2 separate regions of the Homo sapiens genome follow, and region 1 is linked to region 2. A link means that fine-mapping ties the variant in region 2 to the expression of a gene that starts in the linked region. Tissue or cell type: whole blood. Region 2 holds a variant in brackets; the other region holds the start of a gene. All regions are shown on one strand. Distances are from middle to middle.

Evidence for each region. PIP is the estimated chance that this variant, and not a neighbour inherited with it, causes the effect.
Region 1: it holds the start of PTGDR, and the variant in region 2 is fine-mapped to the expression of PTGDR in whole blood (TOPMed, PIP above 0.99).

The regions. Positions count from the first base shown.
Region 1 is chr14:52,264,293-52,272,292 of GRCh38, reverse strand. It overlaps PTGDR (prostaglandin D2 receptor), which reads right to left and starts at 4,595. Exons shown (of 2, transcript NM_000953.3): 1 at 3,633-4,595. The coding sequence starts at 4,478.
Region 2 is chr14:52,180,926-52,189,190 of GRCh38, reverse strand. No RefSeq gene overlaps it. Among named protein-coding and RNA genes, the nearest start is that of LINC02319, 60 kb to the right of the region's middle. The variant G/A (reference allele first, on the strand shown) is at 5,080.

The sequences.
Region 1 (8,000 bases), 83 kb before region 2:
TCTCACTGTGTTGCCCAGGCTGGTCTCAAACACCTGGGCTCAAACAGTCCTCCTGATTTGGCCTCCCAAAATGCTACGATTACAAGTGTGAGCCACCAGCCCCAATGAACAATACATTTCTAATACAAATCCAGTGACTTGAATGTCAACCTAATGGATTTGACATGGATAAATGCTGCCTAGAAAATAAAATAATTTGTTTTAATTATGCTAGTATCATTCAGTTGTCTAGATCCCAACTAATCAAGCATTCTCAAATAGTTGGAACTATATTTTGCCACACTCCACTTTGAGGAGAAAGGGGCAAATAGAAAAAAAACTCATGTAAAATGTTTTCTTTTTAAGTCAACTTAACCATATAGCTTATTGTCACCCATGTCTCCCCCTTCAGATAAAGATACAATTGCTAGGTCCATTACTTAGAAGAGTGTAAAATCTCCAATACCTATTCAATGTGTCCAGTAGGTCAAAACTACTGTCATTACAAACATGTGATTTGCCTTTTTCCCCTTCATTCTCTCACAAGTGTACAGTGAATTTTATGGAGGCTAGATAACAAATGATGACATCACTTTCACAAAGAATAGAATATGTGGTTGTTTATCCTTGTGTTTTCTAGACCTTTTAAGGTGGCAGGTTGAGGGTACACACGTGAATTTTCAGAGACTGTTTTCAGTACTTTTGTGCTCTTAACAGGATTTTTCCACTTTACTTGCTATAATCTCTGTAACCTTATTGTCATCAAATCATTGTGAAATCCCCACATTTTCCTTGTACATATGGAAAACACAAGAGGTACATTTTATCTTGTTTTGCAATCATATGTTTAGAATTTCTTAGTTTTATTTTCTAATATGAGAAATACTGATGATTTAATCCACATAAAAGCCATCTGGGTCATTAATAATTTTAAGAGTATAAAGGGGTCCTTAGACCAAAAAAAAGTTTCAGAGCCACTGCCTTAGTATATAGCACTATCTCCTGGGACGATAATCGTTCTTGATTTTTTTTTATGTCCAGCAGGCAACAATAATACATGGAAGTTATAAATAGTAATAATAATGATGCTAATATATTGAGGCAAGACACTGGGCTAGGTGATGAATGTATATATTATGTATGTAATTTCAAATCTTCATTACTATCTTACAAAACAAGTATGGTTATAATCATTTTACAGATGAGGAAACTGAGGTCAGAAAGGGTAAATTAGCTGCTACCATAGCTAGTAAGTGATGAAGCCTGATTCAAAACCATGTCTGATGCTAAAGCCCTTATCCTCTCTAGAAAATAGTGGTTCTTGTGAAGAATGCTGTCAACATTAAATATATTTGGAACTTGCTAGTTTTTTTGGAAAATCTTTTTCAACTCCATTGATTTTCTTCAATCCTCACAATACCCTAGGAGTTATCCAAGTCTCCGTAGAGACATGTCCAAATGCAATGTTCTTTCCACTGTATGATGCTGCTTTCTGCATTGGTCTGACTAAAACATTCAAACTCAGGTCAAAATTTCCATGCATTTGGCTACTGTCTACTTTGTCACAGCATAGATAAGTGAGGCCCCAACTTTACAATAGGAGCTCCTAAAGATTGTATAAAGGACCAGATAGTAACTATTTTAGGTTTTATGGCCAAGAGACAAAATCATAAATATTTGATAGGTACTAATATAACATGGGAGAAAACACATTTCCACAATTTTTTGATGGAATTCAAAATGTATTAATAATTGAGTACAATTTTTTTTTTAGATGGAGTCTTGCTCTGTCGCCCAGGCTGGAGTGCAGTGACACAGTCTTGGCTCACTGCAACCTCTGCCTCCCAGGTTCAAGCGATTCTCCTGCCTCAGCCTCCTGAGAAGCTGGGACTACAAGTGCATGCCACCACGCCCAGGTAATTTTTGTATTTTTAGAGACGGGGTTTCACCATGTTGGCCAGGATGGTCTCGATCTCTTGACCTCATGATCTGCCCGCCTCGGCCTCCCAAAGTGCTGTGATTACAGGCGTGAGTCACCGCTCCCGGCTGAGTACAATTTTTTTGTAATATGTATCTACTAAGGAGAAGAATAAAACGTTTTCTTGGAACAGTATTTTTCTTGAAATAGTATTTGGCTCAATTGAAGCTCAAAACTCTTGGGTCTCATCAAATTGATTGCAGAGATTCATTTGTAAGAATTATTCTTAACTCCAGGGAGATGTAAAACAGTGGCCAGGAAAGATTTGGCCTGTGAGCTGTGGTTTGCTAACTCCTGTTTTAGAGTGTGATTCTACAAATGTGAACCCTGAATCTGAGCTTGCATATCACCTGGGAACTTGTTAAGAATGAAAATTCTTTAAAAATGTCTGAATTAGAAACTCTGGGGAATGGGGTCCAGCCATCTTTTTTTCTAGAAGCCTTGCTGGTGATTCTGAGCTGGTGATTCTGAAGACCACTGCTATATGTCATCTGCGCCTATATCTACATTTAGATAGATATAGATTTATGTATTTGTTTATTTATTTTGGGGGCATACTGTTCCCACCCCTGCATGCTGATGCCCCAGACTTCTTTTTCCGCAAGCAGTAAGGCCTTCATTTAAAGGAAAATCGCTTTGTATTTCCCTTTCATTCACCATTGAAAGTAATATCCAAAATGGCTACATTCTGAGAAGAAATTTAACAACTTTCCTATTCACAGAAGTCTCAGGATTTCGAGAACGTGGGATTGGCAATGGAATTTCTGTAAGTATTGTTTTTGTTGAACAGGTACCTTGGGAGAAAGGAGAGGAGCAGCACTGAAAATGTTTCCTCAAGCCTCACCTACTCCCAGGTGTCTTGGCGGGGACTCCAGGAACAAATGCCTTCAAAATGAGGAGATAATTTCATTTCCATCGCTATCCTCATTACCAAATTGAAACCGGAGATAATGGCTTTCATGTCACCTCACTTGCCAAGATACACTCAAAACCCGTCAAGTCAGGTTGTCAAAACGACACCAGCAGCTAAAACATACAAAGAGCCTCGGCCTCCATCGCCACAATCCCTGGCGGATGCAGCACCAGAAACAGCAGCCGTGGCGTCTCAAAGTTTACGCACGCGTTTTTCAAAATTAAAACTATGCATCTGCAAATCACTCTGGCTGGCTTAAACCTCTTTTTCCCTTTCTATGCCAACACCGGGGAGAAGATCGTCCCAGACGCCATTCGCCCATTTCTGATACCACTGAAGTCATGAGCAGGTCTAACAAAATAAAACATCACCCAGCCGTCGGGAAGTAGAAGACTCCTGTTGCCAAGGAGAAACTAAGTTCTGCTCCTCCTAAGGCGCAAAAATGACCTCGAGATCTCCCCAGAAGGAAGCAGAGAGGAGGGAGTTCTGCCACATGGAGAGGGTTTTGCTGGGCTAGGGAGACACCGCCGGGCTCAGCCTTTCCCTTCCTTTCTCTAACTTTCCCTCATTTCGCTCCGCAAACTGAGTTATATCTCGGGGCTGTGGAAGGAATCCAATTTGGGGAACTCAGCAGCAAACCTTCCTGGCCCAGGGCGCAGCTCGCCTGGCGCCGCGTCCATCCCGATCCGCTCCACCCTTCCCGCCCCGCATCCGCGGCCGGACAGTCTCAGTGCCCTGCTGCCTCGGGGCCCGGGGACTCACAATTACGGGCAGAGAACACATAGTGAAGAGCACGGTCATCAGCGCCAGCAGCAGGAGGTGATCCAGCTCCTCCAGGGGCTGAGGGGACGCTTCCCTCCCGTCCGCGCGCGGCTCGGCACAGTCCCTGGTGCAGGAGCGCGGGTGCCGCTGCAGCCGCCGGTGCATCGCATAGAGGTTGCGCATGGCGCCGAGGTTGCACAGCACGGTGGCGAGGACCAGCAGCGCCATGAGGCTGGAGTAGAGCACAGAGTACCCCAGCACCGACAGCGAGCCCTCCTCGTGGACCATCTGGATAAAGCACCAGGTGCCGGGGCAGTACTGCACGAACTTCCCGAAGCCCATGAAAGGTAGCGCGCAGAAAGCCAGGGAGAAGGCGCTCACCACCGGGGCCACCAGTGCGCCCAGGCGCAGGGTGATGTGCCGTCGGTAGAAGAAAGGGTGCCCTAGGGAGAGCCAGCACTCCAGTGCCATGGCCAGGAGTTGCAGTGTCGAGGAGAGCCCAAAGAAGGACATGAAGAAGGCGAAGGCTTGGCACAACGAGTTGTCCAATGCGGGCGCAAGCACCCGCAGACTCCGGTTCTGAGCGTAGGCAGCCAGCACCACCGGGCTTAGGAGGCACTTGCCCAGCAAGTCGGTGACCGTCAGGCCACACACCAGCATGTAGAAGACCGAGGGCAGCGGGCGCAGTGGACGCCGCGAGCACCACCCCAGCCCCGAGCGCGCCAGCAGCCCCAGGGCCAGCAGGTTGCCCAGGAGGCCGGTGCTGAAGAGCACCCCGCCCATCACCGCCGAGTTGCCTTTTTCCACAGAGGTGGTGTTCTGGCAGCGGTAGAACGGCGACTTCATGGCGTGCGGGAGCAGAGGGCTGGAGTGAAGGCTGCGGAAGGGCGAGGGCCCCGGCGCCCGGGTGCTAAGGAGCCCCCGGCAGCTCCGCGCGCGGCTCGGGCGGAGAAGCTGCGCCACAGAAAAAGCTCCGAGGGCGGCGGGGTGTTCCCCACGGCAGGAACCTCCTATCTAAACTCGCGGGTCACACCCCTCTTTGAGAGGCGGGACGCTCTGCAGGGTGAGCGCCTGGCGCTGGCATTGAAGAGCGCGGAGCAGGCCAGTGAAGAGCTCGGCCCTGACGCGCTGCGTTCTCAGTAGAGACAGACTCTGGTGCCGAGTCGGAACGGCAGGAGGAAAATAGCCAGAATTCCAAGCACCCAACACCAGTCCTTCTAGCGAGGCAAGAGAAGAACTACTAAAGTGGAGGGGAAATTAAGCAGCAGCCACCTGAGAGGAGGGCAATGGTGCTGGTGTTTGAACTGGGGTGGCCAAGAACTCGAAAGATGAGCGAAGAGGGGAGGCTGAGAAAGGGCTTCTACCTAGTTGTCTTGAATTAGCTAGTCAAGGAAAGGTAAAGATAACTCACGTCTGGAAAGCCCCTGAGCCTTAGCTCCTCTTCTCTACTAGATCAGCGCAATTTGGGGCATTCACGGTCATCTCCATTGCATAGGCGAGGAAACTGAGGCCTTGGAAAGTTAAGTGATCTGCCCGTGGTGACAGAGCTACAGAAGTAGCAGAGCCGGACCTCTCACCCGATCTTCTATTTTGGAGTTCATCTGTCCTGTTCCCATGACTCCTCCTCCCAAGAAGTTGTCCAGATTTCAGGGAAGTGGTTTGTGGGAAAGCCAAGAGCCGGTGTTGGTCCTGGGTGCCATGAATCACATTGACTGTAGAGAGCTGGGGGGAAGGGCATGGTTAGCAGCACTGTTGCTGTCATCAGATAGGCCTGGGTTTGAGTCCAGGTTCTGCTCCTCACTGTGTGTGTGACCTTATGGGACTTGCTTAGCCTCTCAAGCAGTAACATCTATCTGGCCTGCTTGGCTCTTCTGAGGCATAGAAATAACACGTAAAGAGCAAGTACATAGAAAGTGCTCAATTCATGCAATCACCATGATTCTTATTTGATAGAAGGGTGTTTTGGTAGCTGATGTTTAACTGCAGTTTTTAGCATGGATTTTGAAATCAGAAAATGGTAGATTTGGCATAGAGCTTTCTCACTCCTCTGATTTGTGGCTACTAGAAAAAATTTATTCCTGTTTGGGCTTTGACTTGGCTGCATCATAAAGGCAAGGGAGTTAATTGTGATAAGCGTGATTTTATATCTTTAACTAGCATTCGATGCCCTGTGAGAGAAATTGGCTTTGAGTGTGGAATCTCAGTGGGATGACTAAGGTTTTGTTATGTAAGTGAGTAGATGATGCCTGGGCTTGAAACGGCTCATTTTTAGGCCTCATGCCAGTTCTGATGGACAGACTCAGGGAAAGAGCAAGACCCTTGGGATTTAGATGTGAAAGCCTGAAGGGTAGACAGAGAGGCTGCCTCCAGACTGAAAGTCTGGCCAGTAATTCAGGCCACAGGGTGGAAAAGAAGAATCTAAGCTTGGAATTAGATAGTTCTGAACTCCACCACTGGCTGTGTGACCCTGGGTTAGTTGTTCAACCTAATGGAATATGAGACTTATGCTGAACTTGTGGGGTTGTTGTGAGGTTGAGAAAACTTGAAGTGCTTTGGCATAGTGTAATAATAATAATAAGAGCTAATATTTATTGGTCCTGATGCAGGTTGGACACTCTCTAAGCCTTTCACTTATATTGACTCAATAGAAGGCCTTGTATAGAGTTAGTTCCCTTGTCTTCTACCTACTCTCTCTCATTCCCATCTCTAGCCCCTAGCACATAAGAATGGGTTTAGAAGAGCCCCACTCGACTTAATGAAGTGAAAGGAAGAGCAGGCCCCATAACCAAAAGACATGAGAATTTGATGAAAGCTGTGGTCTCCTCCATAGACAGACAGACACACACACACACACAGGCACACACACACAGACACACACGCAGACACACACACACACACTTTACATCAATCTCAGGCTGTTCACCATTTCCTGAAGCCCTTCTATGGTACCCAGAGGAGACCCAATGGACACTAGCTTAAGAATCCTTCCTCTAAAAATATTGCATGGGTTGTTCTTCTGAAGCATACCTACTTCAATTCTTTGCAGCTTTATTTTCATGCTACAGTGGCTTACAACTCCGTATTTATCCTAGGAACCCTAAGATTACAAATACCTTTTAAAGAAAACAACCCCAAAGTGTGACTGTTGGGCCAGCTGTGGGTCCTTGATAAGGTTTACATACATCATGCTTTAAGGTTGAAGGTTTTGAACAAGTGCAATTCAGGAAACCACACGTTTCCTCTCAGCCACTGTAGCTGGCCTTTACGATGGGGTTTCCGGTTGCCTTTCCTGATTGCTTTGCTGGTGTCCACCCTACCCTGTTCTCAGGCCTAACTTTGGAGTCTTCTGTCCCAGTTCCCGAGAAATTCTATTTTGTAATTTCACCATACAACCAAGAAAAGTATCATTTGTTCATGCGTCAAATAGTTTTTGCGCTCCTACTCTGTGCCAAGCATGGGGGTGAGGGGATGAAGCATGTGGGCACTGAGGGGCATACAACAGATAAGGAAAGGCAAACATCATGTCGTGTGACCTCTACAGGCTTATACATTTTTATATCAGCTTTCAGAGTAACCAGGCTAAGTACATTTTTTCCTTAAAAGGGAAACCTTTAATGAAAATATCTTAGGCTAAGTTAGTGGTAAAATTACCTCCATTATCTACAGAGCTGTACCAGGCTGCTTAATTGGGTTATAGGACAAATCTTCTGAAAATATATGACATCATGTGGATGACTATTTTAAATATATAATTATATTATGGCAATATAAACATAAAAATCATAGATTCTCATGGACAAGGCTCAGAAGCTGACATAGGCAAATGAAAACATTCACTTAGACTTGAGAAGGGATGGCAGAAAAATATCTCCTTGGTTTCTGATATTTTCAATGTTGTATATGTAATAATTATTTTAAAAGACTTTAAATGTAAAACAAGTGATATGGTTTGGTTCTGTCCCCACCCAAGTCTCATCTTGAATGTAGCTCCTATAATTCCCATGTGGTCATGGGAGGGAACTGATGAAATGTAATTAATCATGGGGGCAGGTCTTTCCCATGCTGTTCTGTGATAGTGAATAAGTCTCACAACATCTGATGGTTTTATAAAGGAGAGTTCCCCTACACAAGTTCTCTCTTGCCTGCTGCCATGTAAGACGTGACTGCTCCTCATCCACCTTCTGCCATTATTGTGAGGCCTCCCCAGCCATGTGGAACTGTGAGTCAGTTGGACCTCTTTCCTTTATAAATTACCCAGTCTCAGGTATGTCTTTATTAGCAGCATGAGAACAGACTAATACAAGAAATGTATGCTTATGGTGGGGATCTAGGAAGGGGAAAAGAAGGAAAAAGGAACATTTATTTTTT
Region 2 (8,265 bases):
AACAAAACCACTTCCCAGACTCCTGAGTAGCTGACATGGGCTCCTCAGCAGAGTTGGTGCTTCAGAGATAACTCTAAACATTCCTTTTGCAATGTAAATGTGAATTTTATCTTAAAATGTTTAATTTATGGCCACATGTGGTGGCTTACTCCTGTAATCCTGGCACCTTGGGAGGCTGAGGGGGGCGGATTGCTTGAAGCCAGGAGTTCAAGATCAGCCTGAGCAACATAGCAAGACCCTGTCTCTACAAAAAATTAAAAAATTAACTAAGTTTGGTCCAAGCTACTCAGGAGGCTGAGGCGGGAGGATCGCCCTAGCCTAGGTGTTGGAGGCTGCAGTGAGCTATGATTGCATCACTGCACTCTAGCCTAGGCAACAGAGAGAGACCCTATCTCAAAAAAATTTAAAAATTAACTAGGCATGGTGACACACACCTATAGTCCTAGCTACTGAGGAGGTTGAGGAGAGAGGATTGTTCTAGCCCAGGTGTTGGAGTCTGCAGTGAGCTATTATTGCACCACTGCATTCTAGCCTAGGCAATAGAGCAAGACTCTGTCTCTACAAAAAATTAAAATATTAGTGGGCATAGTGGCACAAACCTGTGGTCTCAGCTACCCAGGAAGCTGAGTCAAGAGGATCACTCTAGCCCAGAAGTTGGAGGCTACAGTGATCTATGATTGCATCACTGCACTTCAGCCTAGGCAAGAGAGTGAGATCCTGTCTTGAAAAAAAAAGTTTATTTATCAAGGAATTGTGGGACATACCAAGGTCAAATGTAAATCACAGAAAATGTCCAAAGTTTATCATTTTAATTCTTCTCTTAAGGCAGAAAGTTGTGCTATTTTTTAAAATAAAAATGCCAAGTACTTCTTATAATAAATGATCATCATGAAATGTGAAAAAATTAAAAGCTTAATAAAATGATAAAAGGATTTTTCTCTCTGTCACTTTGCAAGCCAGGGACCCCCGGCCGGTGACACCATGCCTGGGCCTCGCTTGGCCATGCTACCTGCTGCAGGAGACTGCCCACTCATTTGGCCCACCCCAGTTGAGTCTGGCTTGCCCACTGCTTCCTGAGTTCTCTTCTAGTGTCCAAGAAGAATGAGGATGCTGACAATCGAAGAGTATACAAGGTGAGAAACAGCTTTCAGCAGGAAGGGGATGTGGGAGTGGTCCCACTACACAAAGGCAGGAAAAGTTCCCTAATATGGCTGAGCCTGGGGCCCTTATGGGCTCAGAATAGGGAGTGCATGCTGATTGGTTTGTGAGTACACAAAAACGGTTAAAGGGAAGACACCACTCAAAGGTGGGCATGATAGTGTAGAAAACCAATTAGGAAAGTGTAGGTATATGTAAAATAGGTGAAGGGTGGGGATTGATCAGAGGAAAGTGCACCAAATGAGAAGACAGGTCCTCAGTGTGGTCCAAGGATTTACCCAGGACTGTCTTCGGCTTGAAGGTGGGGTTTCACTGGGGACCCTTATCTGCCTAGACATTTGGCTGCCTCCTTCCTCTATCAAAAGGACAGTACTGTATCAAATATATGTTTGACAAAGGAAAATATTTTCTATAGCTGTGCTCTGCCTGGCTAGAAAACATAAATTCAGAAATAGACCAGTGAGCATCTTTAACATCCTTTACAGATGTCCCATGGTTATGAGCCACTTAGGCTCAAGTGAACTATCCAAGCAGCAAATGAACCTGGTAGCACAAAAGACAGGCAGAAGATGTGGAGGATAGCTGAGCACAAGCCATGTTACATGTGTTTGCTGATAACTTCTCAGGTTTTTCTAAACATGTGTGCAACTGCATATTCTTAATCTGGTCCATTATGTAATGATATTGCTGTCTTGCCCTATAGTTGGATTTATACTGGTATTTTGATTTGTTTGTGGAAACTAAGAGCTAAAACACTTAGAAATTTAATTTGGCTCTCAGAATCTTTTGTACTCTCATACAAGCACAGCAGTGAAATGCAAAGCACAATTTAAGCATCACGGCCATGGCCATTTGAATTACACCTCTGCTCAGGAGTCACTAAGTTTAAGCAAGCACCTTGACCTGTCTAGGTATCTATGAAAGCAAAATAAAAACCCAATTGACTGTGCAAGAGGAAAAAGATTAAACTGAAAGTTGAGCCATGCAAGAAGCTGCCTTTCCTTTTGTTCTTAAGCAGATAGCTACAGATAAAAGGTTAAATATTTCCACAGGTAGCTACTCTATGCTCATAATCTTATGCAAAGTTCTGATTTACTGAGTGTGAGATGAATACATAGTTGACTGTTCTCCTACCTGCTCCTTTTATCTTGCAACATGTAGATGACCATACCTTCCATCTTTCCCCTTCAGCCTGCTTTCCCCCTTTAAATACTGAAGTCCTCAAAACCGTCTTTGGAGAAAGGTGCAGACCACAGGCTGTTTCTGTGATTCAATGTTCTTTTCTCCTGGGCATGTCCTTAACCTTGGCAAAATAAACTTCTAAATTGACTGAGACCAGTCTCAGATACTTTTTGGTTTACTGATCTGTAAAACTTGACATTAATTTTCTATCTTTACATATCATCAACCTAGAAGAGATAACGTGACAGTTATTTTAGCTTTTCAGAAAAAATGTGCTGGGTCAATATAAAATAAAGTTGAGCTAATATTAAATATTGCTCTCTTTACAGCCATGTCTATAATTATGCAATATGTACTTTTCATCCAGATGCCTAAAAAATACCTAATTAAGTGAATTTATTAGTTTTTATCTCATAATAGTAAATTTACTGTGGCAAAGGAATACTTTTTAAAATTAGCTTTTCAGTATTTCATTAGAATTTTAAAACTTCTTTGACTTTTAAAAAATTAAATAATCCAAATATTATTAAAAGCAAAATGCAGGGGTTTTCCTGCTGCCCCTCTGAGTTTAGGAGCAGCTGTCCTGCTCCATGGTTGCCCCCTTGATGGAACTGGAAGTTGCCTGCCTGTCTTCTCTTTTTTCTTCCATTTCTTCTTCAGACTCTTCCTTGGCTTAGCACACCTGACTCCCTTCCACATCAGGGATAAATGCATACAGGGAGGGGAAAGTGGAGAAGGAGGGACCATGCAACTCGTCCAACTCCTCTCCCCATTCGTGGACAAGCTCTTCACCATTCCCTCTCCACTCATATAGACTCCCTGGTCTTTCCATTGTCTTCAGTCTCTCAAATCCCACCTTATTTGTGTTGTTTCCAATTTTTCTTGACAATTACAAATAAAGCTTCTATAAACATTTATATACAGGTTATTGTGTGAACTAAATCTTCATTTCTCTGGGATAAATGGCCAGGAGTGTAACTGTTGGGTTGTATGATTGTTGCATGTTTGAATTTTAAAGGCAGGCCAGTCACGGTGGCTCATGCCTGTGATCCCAGCACTTTGCAAGGCCGAGATGGGAGGATTGCCTGAGGTCAGGCGTTTGAGACCATCCTGGTCAACATGGTAAAACCCTGTCTATACTAAAAATACAAAAATTAGCTGGGTGTGGTGGTGGTTGCCTGTGGTCCTGGCTACTTGGGAGGCTGAGGCAGGAGAGTCGCTTGAACCTGGGAGGCAGAGGTTGCAGTGAGGTGAGATTGCACCACCGCACTCCAGCCTGGGCAACAGTGTGAGACTCTGTCTCAAAAACAAATAAATAAATAAATAAAAACAAAATAAAATAAAATAAATTTAAAGGAAACTGCCAGATTGTTTTTTCCCAGAATGGCTGTCACATTTTGCATTCACACAAGCAATTTCTCCACATCCTTTCCAGCATTTGGTGTTGTGACTAATTTTTGTTTTAGCCATTTTGAAAGACATGTAACGGTATCTCATTGTGGTTTTAATTTGCATCTCCCTCATGACTAATGATCTGGAATATCTTTTCAGGTACTTACTTGCCATAAGCATATTTTCTTTAGTGAAATGTCTATTGCCTTAATACGGTTTGGATCTGTGTCCCACCAAATTTCATGTCAGATTGTAATCCCCAGTGTTGGAGGTGCGGCCCTGTGTGAGGTGATTGAACCATGGGGGCAGTTTCTCATGATTTAATGCTATACGCCTTGGTGCTGTCATCATGATAGTGAGTGCTCATAAGATCTGGTTGTTTAAAAGTGTGTGGAACCTGTCCTCCTCCCTTTGTCCTGCTCCAGCCATGTGAAGTACCTCACTCCCCCTTTGCCTTCTGCCATAATTGGAAGCTTCCTGAAGCCTCCCTAGAAGCAGAAGCCACTATGCTTCGTGTACAGCCTGCAGAACTGTGAGCCAATTAAACCTCTTTTCTTTATAAATTACCCAGTCTCAGGTATTTCTTTATAGCAGTCCCAGAATGGACTAACACAGCCTGTAGATTGTTTGCTTTTTTAATGTTGAGTTTTGAGGATTCTTTATACACCCTAGATACTAGTCTTTGTCAGATGCGTGGTTTGTAAATATTTTTCCCAGTATGTGGCTTGTCTTTTCTTCATCTTACCAGGACTTTATGAAGCAAAAGCATTTAATTTTGATGAAGTTCAAATTTACCAATTTTTGCTTCTGTAGATTTTGTTTTCGGTGACAAGTCTAAGAGATCTTTGCCTAGCCCTAGATCTCGAACATTTTCTCCTTTATTTTTGGAAAAGTTTAATAGTTTCATGTTAGCGTTTAACTAACATGACCCATTTTGAGTTCACTTTTGCATGAGGTGTGAGGTTTAGGGCATTGTTTATTGTGTACCCATAGATGTACAATTGCTTTAGCACCATTTGTTTGCAAAGCCATCTTTTCTCCATTGAGTTAATTTTTTTTATCTTTGTCAAAAATCAATTTGGGCACATTTGTATGGGTCTATTTCTGGGTTCTCTAACTTGTTCTACAGATCCATATGTCTAACCCTCCACTAATACCACACAGTCTTAATTCCTGTAGCTTTATAGTAAGTCTCAAAATCAGGTAGACTGATTTCTCCCATTTTATTGTTCCTTTTCAAAATTGTTTTAGCTATTCTAGTGTTTTGTTGTTTCCTATAAACCCAAAAATAATCTTACCTCTATCCATAAAATACTTGAGATTTTGATAGGAATGGCACTAAACTGG[G/A]ATATCAATTTGGGAGAACGGACATCTGTACTAGAGTGAGTCTTCTATTACATAAGCACAGAATATCTCTTCATTTATTTAGATCTTCCTTACTTTCTTCATCAGTATTATGTAGTTTTCAGTACACGAGTCCCATACATGTTTTGTTAGATTGAAAACTAAGTTTTTCTCTTTTTTTGAATGATTATAAATGTTGGTGTATATGTTTGTTGCTAATATATAGAAATATAATTTATTTTGTATATTTATCTTGTATACCACAACTTTATTGAATTCACTTATTAGCTTTAGGAGCTTTTTGGTAGTGCCCTTGAGATTTTCTGTGTATGTCATCTGCAAACATGGACAGTTTTATTTATTCCTCTCTGATCTGTACATTTTTGTTTCATTTTACTTTTTTGTCTTAATGCACTGAATAGGAAGCTCCAGCATTGTGTGGAATAAAAGTGGTGATAGTAGGCATCCTTGCCCAGTTCTTAGGGAAGAACTTAGGTGAAAAGCACTCAGCCTTTCACTACTAAGTATAGTGATGTTAAGTTGTGGGTTTTTTGTAGACATTCTTTATCAAGTTAAGGAAGCTCTCCTTTACTCCTATTTTTCTAAGAGGTCTTTTCCCCCTAAAGATCATGTATTTGTCAAATAATTTTTCTGCATCAATTGATACCTTGGTCCATTTTATGTTGCTATAAAAGAATACCTGAGGCTGGGCAATTTATTAAAAAAAGAGATTTATTTCACTCACAATTCTGCAGGCTGGGAAGTTCAAGAGCATTGCACCACATTGGCTGCCTTCTGGTGGGGGCTGTTTGCTGGGACAAAATGTGGTAGAGAGGTGGAAAATCAAGCAGGCATGTGCAAAGTGATCACATGGTGAGAGAGGAAGCAAGAGAGAGTCTAGGAAGCCAAACTCCCTTTGACAACAACCCACTCTCTGGAGAGTGAGAATTCATTCACTCCCGTGGGAAAGCATTAATCTATTCATCAGTGACCCACCTCAATGACCCAAACACCTTCCACTAGGCCCCACCTTCCAACACCACTACACTGGGGATCAAATTTCACAATGAGTTTTAGCAGAAACAAACCACATCCAAACTATAGCAACTGATATGAACGTGTGATGTTTTTTCTTCCTTAGCCTGTTAATATGATGGATTTCACTGACTGACTTTCATACATTGAACCAGATTGCATCACTGGAAGAAACTCCACTTGGTTATGGTGATTATTTTTTCTATGTATTATGTATTATGATCAGCTTTTTATATATTGCTAAATTTTGTTTGCTCATATTTTAGAAGCAATTTTGCATTTATAATTGTATTAATCTGTTATCATGTTGCTAATAAAGACATACCAGAGACTAGGTAATTTATAGAGGAAAGAGGTTTAATGGACTCACAGTTCCATATGGCTAGGGAGGCCTCACAATCATGGTGGAAAGTGAATGAGGAGCAAAGTTACATCTTACATAGCGGCACTCAAGTGGACATGTGCAGTGGAACTCGCCTTTATAAAACTATCAGACCTCATGAAACTTATTCACTATCACAAGAACAGCATGGGAAATACTCAACCCTATGATTTAATTACCTCCCATTGAGTCCCTCCTATGACACATGGGGATTATTACAATTCAAGGTGAGATTTGGGTTGGCGCACAGAGCCAAACCATATCAATAGTCATGAAGAATAATGGTCTCCAGCTCTACCTCTGGAGGCAACTTTCTTCCCAATAACTTCTTCTGGGTCTTCTCTATTATTTATTGCCAAGTCAAAAAATAAAACAATGCATAGAATTTATTTCATGAGAGAGCCAATTCAAACCTCAAAATCCTGAGGTATGCATTGAGACTGATAACATACTCAAATTCATATCTAAAGTAAAAATACTGTTGTCATTTTGTATTATTGAAATTTTTTTTGATAATCTTATGATGGCTTCTAAAACACATCAAATGACTAATTAAAATTTACATAAATTCTCATTTTTGTGTTATGCTTGATTAATAAAGACACCAACCAATCTACCTGATATGGTTTGACTCTGTGTCCCCACCCAAATCTCACCTTGAATTGTAACTCCCTAGAGTTGAATTGGAACTTCCTAGAGACCTGTTGAATGGCTTTGACCAAAATGCTGATTGTGATATGGACAATAAGGTCCAGGCTGAGGTGGTCTCAGATAAAGATGAGAAACTTGCTAGGAACTGGAGTAAAGGTCACTCTTGTTATGCAAAGAGATCAGTGGCATTTTGCCCCTGCCCTAGAGATCTGTGGAACTTTGAATTTGAGAGAGATTATTTAGGGTATCTGGTGGAAGAAATTTCTAAGTGGCAAAGTGTTCAAGGTAAAGCAGAACATAAAAATTTGGAAAATTTGCAGCCAGACAATGTGATAGTAAAGAAAAAAACTTTCTGGGAAGAAATTCAAGCCTGCTGCAGAAATTTGCATAAGTAGCAAGGAGCTGAATGTTAATCACCCAGGCAATGGGGAAATATCTCCAGGGTGTGTCAGAGACCTTTGCAGCAGCCCTTCCCATCACAGGCCCGGAGGCCTAGGTGGAAAAAATCATTTTGTGGGCTGGGCCCAGGACCCCCTGCTGTGTGCAGCCTAGGGACTTGGCGCCCTGAGTACCAGCCACTCCAGCTGTGGCTAAAAGGGGCCAAGGTACAGCTGGGGCCATGGCTTCAGAGGGTGCAAGGCCCAAAGCTTGGCAGCTTCCACATGGTATTGAACCTGTGGGTGCGTGGAAGTCAAAAATTGAGGTTTAGTAACCTCTGCCTAGACTTCAGAGGATGTATGGAAATGCCTGGATGTCCAGGCAGAAGTTTGCTGCGGGGGCAGAGCCCTCATGGAGAACCTCTGTTAGGGCAATGCAGAAGGGAAATGTGGGGTTGGAGCCCCCACACAGAGTCCCCACTGGGGCACTGCCTAGTGGAGCTGTGAGAAGAGGGCCACCATCCTTCAGACCCCAGAATGGTAGATCCACTGATAACTTGCACCATGAACCTGGAAGAGCTGCAGACACTTAACATGGGAAAGCAGCCAGGAGTGGGGGGTGTACCCTGCAAAGCCACAGAGGTGGAGCTGCCCAAGGCCATGGTAGCCCACTTCTTGCATCAGCGTGACCTGGATTTGAGACATGGAGTCAAAAGAGATCATTTTGAAGCTTTACAATTTGAG